3 linked regions of the Homo sapiens genome follow. The protein of the gene in region 2 purifies or fractionates together with the protein of the main gene of each other region. This does not show direct contact. Each region holds a gene or a part of one and is shown on either strand. Other genes may lie near its edges.

Region 1 (3,660 bases), on a different chromosome or scaffold from region 2:
GCCAAACAAATCTTCCTAAGTAGGGAAGGAAGGGCAAATATAAAAAAGAAGCAATTGAGAAGATGCAGGAATAAGGTATCTTATATACAACTTTCATTAAAAATTGCTAAAATGGGCCAGGCGCAGTGGCTTACGCCTGTAATCTCTACACTCTGGGAAGCCAAGGCGAGCAGAACCCTTGCAGTCAGGAGTTAAAGACCAGCCTGGCCAACATCGTGAAACCCCGTCTCTACTAAAAGTACAAAAACTAGCCGGGTGTGGTGGCACATGCCTGTAACCCCAGCTACTCAGGAGGCTGAGGCAGGAGAATTGCTTGAACCCAGGAGGTGGAGGCTGCAATGAGATTTCACCACTGCACTCCACACTCCAGCCTAGGCAACAGAGAAAGACTCCATCTCAAAAAAAAAAAAATCTGCTAAAATTTTAAATTAAAGTCCCAGCTACTTGGGAGGCTGAGAGGGGAGGATCCCTTGAACCCAGGAGGTGGAGGCTGCAATGAGATTTCACCACTGCACTCCACACTCCAGCCTAGGCAACAGAGAAAGACTCCATCTCAAAAAAAAAAAAATCTGCTAAAATGAAGCTGGGTGCAGTGACACAAGCCTGTAGTCCCAGCTACTTGGGAGGCTGAGAGGGGAGGATCCCTTGAACCCAGGAGGTCGAGGCTGCAGTGAGCTATGATCACACCATTGCACTCCAGCCTGGGTGATCTGACAGGACACCTTGTATCTAAAAAAAGAAGACTCGGCTGGTCTGAAGGTAGTAGTGAATTAGCTCAACTGATTGTTCACAGTCAGTTACAGATCAAACTTCTACTCTTTCCCCTCTTCTCACTACTGCACTTGACTACTCTTAAAAAAATTTCTTTTAGTCCAGGTGTGGTGGCTCACGCCTGTAAGCCCAGCACTTTGGGAGGCTAAGGTGGGTGGATCACTTGAGGTCAGGAGTTTGAGACCAGCCTGGCCAACATGGCAAAGCCCCGTCTCTACTAAAAATACAAAATTAGCCAGGCATGGTGGCGGGCGCCTGTAATCCCAGCTATTCAGGAGGCTGAGGCAGGAGAATCGCTTGAACCCAGGAGGTGGAGATTGCAGTGAGCTGAGATCACACCACTGCATTACAGCGTGGGTGACAGAGAGAGACTCTGTCTAAATAAACAAACAAACAAACAAACAAAATTTGTTTAAAATTCTAAAGTGAAAAAAAGTATAATCCGATTATCTTACAAAACCAAACAAATAAACAAGCCCCAAAGTTGTTTTCATAGAGGGATGTTATGTATACTAAAGGGCACTGCAAGACTCTTAGACTTCAGGTACTGCTGCTGTGCCCAGAGGCGGGAACCCTGGTTGGTTGTCTAACGTGGTAATTTGTTATGACCTGACAGCTGTGTGTCCCTAAAAGACCTAAGTGCTTGGGGAAACTGAAGAGGTGCATTGGTCTTTCCCTCATCTCCCGCATGCGTGAAAACATAACCCAGCTAATGAACATTACTTCTCAACCTGAGAATTCGGAGTCTTTGACTCATGGAGACCAGGCACAGTCCAGGCCACTCTCCTGCATGCCCAGCTCCCTAGCCTTGTGTGGCTCCCTCATTACACTGGCCACATCATTGTTAGCTTTGTTTGTGTCTCCTTGGCTCGATGGAAAGATTCCCCAACGGTGTGGATAGTATTGTTCAGTTTGCTACTGTAGTTCCAGGTCTTGCCTGGTATATAGTTGGCACGCAGTAAATACTTGTTGAAAGAACAAATACATGAGTGAATGTACAGTTGGATGAACATGATTAAAAGAATAAGGATAAACATGATTAAAAGAATTAGGAGAAACAAGGAAAAAAACTTTCCTTAGGAAGCTTCCATTCTATCTATTACCAAATAAAAAAGAAGGGTGTGTTTACATAGCTACACGTTATGAAACCGGGTGGATAAATACCCAAGATGCTTACCAAGGAGGGTGCATGAAACAACCCACAGGGTTCTTACGATTCCAAATTATGCAACTGCATCTATGGCAAGTAATTTCACATAAACCCTTTGTTTCAGTTTTTCTTATTCTAAATTGGGCACATAGGTTTTGTGCCCAGGGCACACTGGATTTTGAAATTTCAAACAAGGAACACATAAAGGGTCATTTCATGGTATCAATACTGTGCCTGGCACATATTAGCTGCTCAGTGAAATTAGAGTGAATACATGGATATGCAAATAATAGCTCAAACAAGCCTAGCATAACTCTGAGAGCAAAAAGCTGATTTGTTCCAAGTAGTGCAGCTCTTTAGAGCCAGTGGGGCCCCATGGGTATAAACTGGAATTTTTACTATGCTGCTCCTGTGCTTACCGTTTGTTAACTTGCTCCACAGCAATGTTGAGGCGATGTGCAATGTCTTCCACTGTTTCACTGTTGGCTGAAATGATCCCCACACTCTTGGCAATAGCTTTGGCTGTGATGGGATGATCACCAGTAACCATAATAACCTAGAGCAAAGACAACGAGAAGGCCCACGGGTAATGAAGAACTCGGTTGGCCAAAGTGGGGATGGTTCAGTAATACCTACTCTGTAGTGCCCTGGGAGAACGTGGTTGGTGATTACAGTGGCAGCTCTGGATCTACGAGACAACTGTCTTTGGAGGAAACACTAATCCCATTGGGTCTACCCTTGCTCCTAAGCTTCATACGCTTCCTCCTCTGACATGAAAGGAAGCCCTTCCCCTTTGATGCCACTTTATTTGTGAAAGGGCTGGTGAGTGTCTACTTGGGGGTAGCCCCATGTTACTTCAACAGTCTTAATATTAACCTAGTAATGATGAACATGGATTATGGGGGCTGAGCCTCAAGACTGAGTAATAAAGCCTTTTTTCTTTCTTTTTTTCTTTTCTTTTCTTTCTTTCTTTTTTTTTTTTTTTTTTTGAGACAGAGTTTCACTCTTGTTGCCCAAGCTGGAGTGCAATGGTGTGATCTCGGCTCACTGCAACCTCTGCCTCCTGGATTCAAGAGATTCTCCTGCCTCAGCCTCCCGAGTAGCTGGGATTACAGGTGTGTGCCACCACATCTGGCTAATTTTTTTGTATTTTTAGTAGAAACGGGGTTTCACCATGTTGGCCATGGCTGGTCTGGAACTCCTGACCTCAGATGATCCGCCTGCCTCAGCTTCCCAAAGTGCTGGGATTTCAGGCATGAGCCACTGCGCCCAGCCAATAAAGCCTTTTAGTATCTACCATGGACTAGGGCGAGATATGGTCACTTCAAGGCACTAGGAGATTCTTCTCATTGCATTTACTGTTTATGTGGTTCATTCCACATAGACACAATCATTTTCTTTTTGTGGGACAGTTTCAGTAACCTTAGCACAGTGAAACTAGAAATAAAATAGGAATTATGATATTTACTTGAAGACACCTAAATACTGACCATCTGCTATGAAAACCATTATTAGAAAGGAACACGACATAAAGAAAGAACTTCTTGAGTCAGGAAAATAACTCCCACCTTGATCCCTGCACTCCGGCATTTGGTGACTGCATCTGGCACGGTGGACCGAGGGGGATCGATCATTGACAAGAGTCCCACAAAACAGAGGTTGGAGGTCGGAAAGTTCATAGCGTCTATGTCAAATGAGTAGGTTTCTGGAAACTCGTCTGCTGGCAGGTAGAGATGACA
Region 2 (3,660 bases):
GAGAGGAGTGTTGATAGGAGAAAGACACAGGATGATAAGCACACACTCAACCCACCCCAAACCAGGCTAGGAAAGTTGAGGTTTCCTAAGGAAAGTGACAGCTAAGCTGAGGCCTTGAGGATAAAGAGAAGTTAGCCAGCCAAGAAGGTATGGAAACAGTTTTCCACACAAATGAAAGTCTGTGCAAAGGTCCAGGCTGAGAGAAATCACAGAACCTAAAAGGAGGCAGATGGGCCCAGGACAGCAGGAACTCAGTGCTGGGGGTGGAGGAAGCAGGAGGCAGAACAAGAAAGGACTTCAACATTACAGACTTAGGGCATTCTCCTGAGGGCAAGGACAGACTACTAAAGGGTTTTAAGCAGGATAATTGGTACTGTTCACATATAAGATGGGCAGTAAACATCTGTTCCGATATATCAAATAACCTTTTGAATTTAATTCTAGTCTTCCCTCTGCCCTAAATCAACACTTCCGACATCAGTGAAGAATATACAGGATTCCTAAACAATAGAAGTTCTGGATAACACCTAGCACAGCACTGTGCAATAAAACCATAATGTGAAACACATATGTAATTTAAAATTTCCTAGTAGCCAGAGTCTTAAAAAGTAAAATTAAGTTAAATTTAAGAGTAATAATATATTTTATTTAATAGAGCATTTGTAGAATATTACTTCAACATGTGATCAGTATTAAAAATACTGAGATATTTTACATTTTTTCATTCCAAGTCTGCAAAGTCTAGTGTGCATTTTATACTTAACAGAACATCTCAATCTGGACTGGCCATATTTCAAGTGCTCAATACCCACACATGGCTAGTGGCTACCATACTGAATAGTACAGATGTAGAATGTACTTTGGGAAGCATTTCTCAGAATGCTTAAAGTACTTTTTATCATTTGTTTGTATTTGTATTCTAATTTATTAAAATAATGCAAATCAGTTTTTCAATGGGAAAAAAAAAAAGCTCAATATTGAAAAGGTACCCATAATCCCATACCAAAAATACCGGTTAACATTTGAATGTATATGTTTGTTAGACACTGTCTTCATGTCCAACATATATGTAGAATACACTTTTCTAAAAGTAAGGTCCGTCTGAATAGCTCTTAATATGTAAACATTTATAATGATTTTTATGAATCCATAAAAATTTCTCTTTTAGGAAAAAACAATCACATTTCCAACATAGGTTTTAAAAAAATACATTACACATGGGATTCTGAATAAAATAAAACATTAATTCTGCTTTTACAGTTACTACCTTTTAAGATTATACCTAAATGAGTATTTCCTAGAACTCTGGAGTTTTATAGGGAACCATTATTATTTTAGGGGCATGCTGGTCTCCGTATTACCTAGAAGTTCTCAGAGACTGCCCTGCTGCTCCAGTTTCTCTTTACTGCCACCTGTCTGCTCCATTCTTCCCTTTTCATTGCCCAAAAAAAAGGAAGAAGGAAGAGGAGGGAAAAGGGAGGGGGAGAGGGGAGAAGGAAGAAAGGAGTGGGGGTTGGTGGGTAAAGGGGGAAAGAGGGAGGGAAAGGAGAAAAGGAAGACCAAAAGAAAGAAAAGGAAGAACAGAGGGAGGGAGGGATGAGTGTCTAACTTACACAGAGTAAAAAGGTGGCTTCAAAAATTTGGTAGGTTTGACTATATTCATTGCCCTTTGCCTTATTACTCAGCAAATGTCTTGGAGGCCATAAGTGCCCTATGAGTGACCAGTTCACACCTCTTTTCAGGCCTCTGCCTTCAGAAGTTACAAGATGATCAATTCAACCTCCACACAGCCTCCAGATGAATCCTGCTCTCAGAACCTCCTGATCACTCAGCAGATCATTCCTGTGCTGTACTGTATGGTCTTCATTGCAGGAATCCTACTCAATGGAGTGTCAGGATGGATATTCTTTTACGTGCCCAGCTCTAAGAGTTTCATCATCTATCTCAAGAACATTGTTATTGCTGACTTTGTGATGAGCCTGACTTTTCCTTTCAAGATCCTTGGTGACTCAGGCCTTGGTCCCTGGCAGCTGAACGTGTTTGTGTGCAGGGTCTCTGCCGTGCTCTTCTACGTCAACATGTACGTCAGCATTGTGTTCTTTGGGCTCATCAGCTTTGACAGATATTATAAAATTGTAAAGCCTCTTTGGACTTCTTTCATCCAGTCAGTGAGTTACAGCAAACTTCTGTCAGTGATAGTATGGATGCTCATGCTCCTCCTTGCTGTTCCAAATATTATTCTCACCAACCAGAGTGTTAGGGAGGTTACACAAATAAAATGTATAGAACTGAAAAGTGAACTGGGACGGAAGTGGCACAAAGCATCAAACTACATCTTCGTGGCCATCTTCTGGATTGTGTTTCTTTTGTTAATCGTTTTCTATACTGCTATCACAAAGAAAATCTTTAAGTCCCACCTTAAGTCAAGTCGGAATTCCACTTCGGTCAAAAAGAAATCTAGCCGCAACATATTCAGCATCGTGTTTGTGTTTTTTGTCTGTTTTGTACCTTACCATATTGCCAGAATCCCCTACACAAAGAGTCAGACCGAAGCTCATTACAGCTGCCAGTCAAAAGAAATCTTGCGGTATATGAAAGAATTCACTCTGCTACTATCTGCTGCAAATGTATGCTTGGACCCTATTATTTATTTCTTTCTATGCCAGCCGTTTAGGGAAATCTTATGTAAGAAATTGCACATTCCATTAAAAGCTCAGAATGACCTAGACATTTCCAGAATCAAAAGAGGAAATACAACACTTGAAAGCACAGATACTTTGTGAGTTCCTACCCTCTTCCAAAGAAAGACCACGTGTGCATGTTGTCATCTTCAATTACATAACAGAAATCAATAAGATATGTGCCCTCATCATAAATATCATCTCTAGCACTGCCATCCAATTTAGTTCAATAAAATTCAAATATAAGTTTCCATGCTTTTTTGTAACATCAAAGAAAACATACCCATCAGTAATTTCTCTAATACTGACCTTTCTATTCTCTATTAATAAAAAATTAATACATACAATTATTCAATTCTATTATATTAAAATAAGTTAAAGTTTATAACCACTAGTCTGGTCAGTTAATGTAGAAATTTAAATAGTAAATAAAACACAACATAATCAAAGACAACTCACTCAGGCATCTTCTTTCTCTAAATACCAGAATCTAGTATGTAATTGTTTTCAACACTGTCCTTAAAGACTAACTTGAAAGCAGGCACAGTTTGATGAAGGGCTAGAGAGCTGTTTGCAATAAAAAGTCAGGTTTTTTTCCTGATTTGAAGAAGCAGGAAAAGCTGACACCCAGACAATCACTTAAGAAACCCCTTATTGATGTATTTCATGGCACTGCAAAGGAAGAGGAATATTAATTGTATACTTAGCAAGAAAATTTTTTTTTTCTGATAGCACTTTGAGGATATTAGATACATGCTAAATATGTTTTCTACAAAGACTTACGTCATTTAATGAGCCTGGGGTTCTGGTGTTAGAATATTTTTAAGTAGGCTTTACTGAGAGAAACTAAATATTGGCATACGTTATCAGCAACTTCCCCTGTTCAATAGTATGGGAAAAATAAGATGACTGGGAAAAAGACACACCCACACCGTAGAACATATATTAATCTACTGGCGAATGGGAAAGGAGACCATTT
Region 3 (2,390 bases), on a different chromosome or scaffold from region 2:
CTTTCCTTCAGTTTTATTCCCAACTCATACATACTAAATAGGTCTTCGTATTTACTCTTTCAAGCAGCTAGTCCTCTACCTTTTTCTCTGCTGAGAAATCTTGGAGGAATCCTTAGAGGCTAACATGAAGACTACTAAGAAAATATAGAAAGAAATAACACAGCGTCTTACCTAGAATAGCAGCAAATCTTTTAAAACTCAATACCTCGATGTTGGGGATGTTGAATATTATCTAAAAACTATTTATAGGCCAGGCATGGTGGCTCACGCCTGTGATCCCAGCACTTTGGGAGGCCAAGGTGGGAGGATCACAAGGTCAGGAGATCGAGACCATCCTGGCTAACATGGTGAAACCCCGTCTCTACTAAAAAATACAAAAAATTAGCCAGGCATGGTGATGGGCACCTGTGGTCCCAGCTACTTGGGAGGCTGAGGCAGGAGAGTGGTGTGAACCCGGGAGGGAGCTTGCAGTGAGCAAAGATCACACCACTGCACTCCAGCCTGGGTGACAGAGCGAGACTGTCTCAAAAACAAACAAAAAAACCACAAAAACTATTTATGAAAATATTTATTAAAAATACTAGATAATATTCAACGATGTAAAACCAGTTGGAATGATCCATTTAAGAGATGAAGAGCAACTATGTTTTATTAGTATTTATGTGGCAACATATTTTAAATTAAGAAACGAGGTCAACAGCTTCTTTCAGAAGTTTGTGGTAATATTCTCTGCTTCATAGATCCTAGAGGTCAGTTGGGTTCCAAATTGGGCAGCACCTTACTCCTTTAGCTACATATATTTTCATTCGTGGACCTCTAACAGACAAATAATATAACTTGAGAGAATTTCAGAGTACTACTTTTTAGCCTCAAAGACGTTCTTCCAACTATCCACTATTGATACATTTAAATAATTTATTAAAAAATTTACAAACACTTCAAATAAAATTATGAAGTTCTTCAGAAGATATTCCTAAAATATAGGCATGTTTTCCTTTAAATATCTGGGATTCTATCTACAGTGCCTCTGTTATATTCATTCAAATTATTCTTATAATCTAAAACAATGAAGCTTCTCAACTGGTGGAATGCTGCCAGAGGATTTCAACAGAGTTTGAAGGCAACATAACCAAAAGGCATAGTTTAAATTGGCTTAGGAAATGAATGGGCTCCTTATCAGAGCAGCTGAAGGCTGTATACAATTAACAGCATCTGTCAACTTTCATAGGGCCCCATATAGAACAAGCAGGCCCTACAGCCTGGCGGCAACCTTCAGCTTCTGGCACCTTCGGATCCACATGACCTGAAAACAGAAAGACGGCTTCAAGCCATCACTAGAAGGCCTCTGAATCATTTTAGTGATATTGCTAATTAATGTTAATTATTTGAACAATTCTGTTAACCTTAGCATCAGGCTTTAAATTAACCAGCTACCATTCAAAATATAAAATCATTTGTAGAGATAAGTTTATATTTATAATAACTGATTTTACAGTCTCTTACATGTTATTTTTATTTTTAAAGACTATGAAAATTATCTACCTACCTGCCTTTTTATATGATGAACTCTCAAATCAGCTAAAATATTTTTGTATGAAGAGTACTAAATTCATTATATGGCAATTTTTAATTGTTTTTGTATATAATACATTTCTCTCATGAGCATGTACAAAACAAAGCAAATCCAGAGTTTCATTAAATAAATTTATTTGTTAAAATAATTTAACTCCAAATACAACTGTTGAATTTGCATTGAGTTATAACTACAATTCATGTTTTAATTGAAATGTCAAGGTTTAACAACTGACATTGTTACAAAACAATAAACTTGTTCAATTTTAAATGGTCAGTTGTATTAGAGCGCAACAATTAACTGTGAACTATATCTCTGGGAAACCTCAAATCAATAATGATAAGTCTGTTTCCAAAACCCACTGCAGTCATTCTTGAAACCCTGATCAAGATTTAATAGATGAACAATGACATGTTAAATAAAAAAAAAAAGACCTCCATAGTCCTTAATGTTTGATTGGCTAAGGGACAATTAAAGCTTACCCAGTGCTAACACAAGACTGCTGATAAGAACAAAAAAATTAAAAACACACACATAAACAAAAAACAGCAACAAACAAAACAAAGCACTTTCATATTCATACATACACTGACAACATTAACATTCATACTGGAAAACCCTTGAAAAGAAATACCAGACAGCCTTAGGCAACATTTCTTTATATAGAAAAGCAAATATCAGTAGTATTACCACAGAAAGGTGATGGCAACTGTAGCAATTTGAGTCAAAAGTTCAGTCCTAATTCTACAAACCAAAGGAGAAAATCATCAAAGCACCTTTCAATAGTTTAAGAAAATATTTTATGTAATACTTTTGA

The links.
Region 1: the proteins of P2RY14 (region 2) and ATP12A purify together in Homo sapiens (affinity purification with mass spectrometry; 3 studies listed by BioGRID and IntAct, with this or other methods). This does not show direct contact.
Region 3: the proteins of P2RY14 (region 2) and RAP2A purify together in Homo sapiens (affinity purification with mass spectrometry, with the first as the bait; one large-scale study listed by BioGRID). This does not show direct contact.

Annotation. Positions count from the first base shown.
Region 1 is NC_000013.11:24,700,752-24,704,411, reverse strand, and holds part of ATP12A (potassium-transporting ATPase alpha chain 2), read right to left. Parts: coding exon 3,490-3,660; intron 2,478-3,489; coding exon 2,341-2,477; intron 1-2,340. UniProt on the Homo sapiens protein: The catalytic subunit of a H(+)/K(+) ATPase and/or Na(+)/K(+) ATPase pump which transports K(+) ions in exchange for Na(+) and/or H(+) ions across the apical membrane of epithelial cells.
Region 2 is NC_000003.12:151,212,423-151,216,082, reverse strand, and holds part of P2RY14 (P2Y purinoceptor 14), read left to right. Parts: intron 1-1,742; 5' UTR 1,743-1,766; coding exon 1,767-2,783; 3' UTR 2,784-3,660. UniProt on the Homo sapiens protein: Receptor for UDP-glucose and other UDP-sugar coupled to G-proteins. Not activated by ATP, ADP, UTP or ATP.
Region 3 is NC_000013.11:97,467,292-97,469,681, reverse strand, and holds the end of RAP2A (ras-related protein Rap-2a), read right to left. Parts: 3' UTR 554-2,390; downstream 1-553. UniProt on the Homo sapiens protein: Small GTP-binding protein which cycles between a GDP-bound inactive and a GTP-bound active form. In its active form interacts with and regulates several effectors including MAP4K4, MINK1 and TNIK.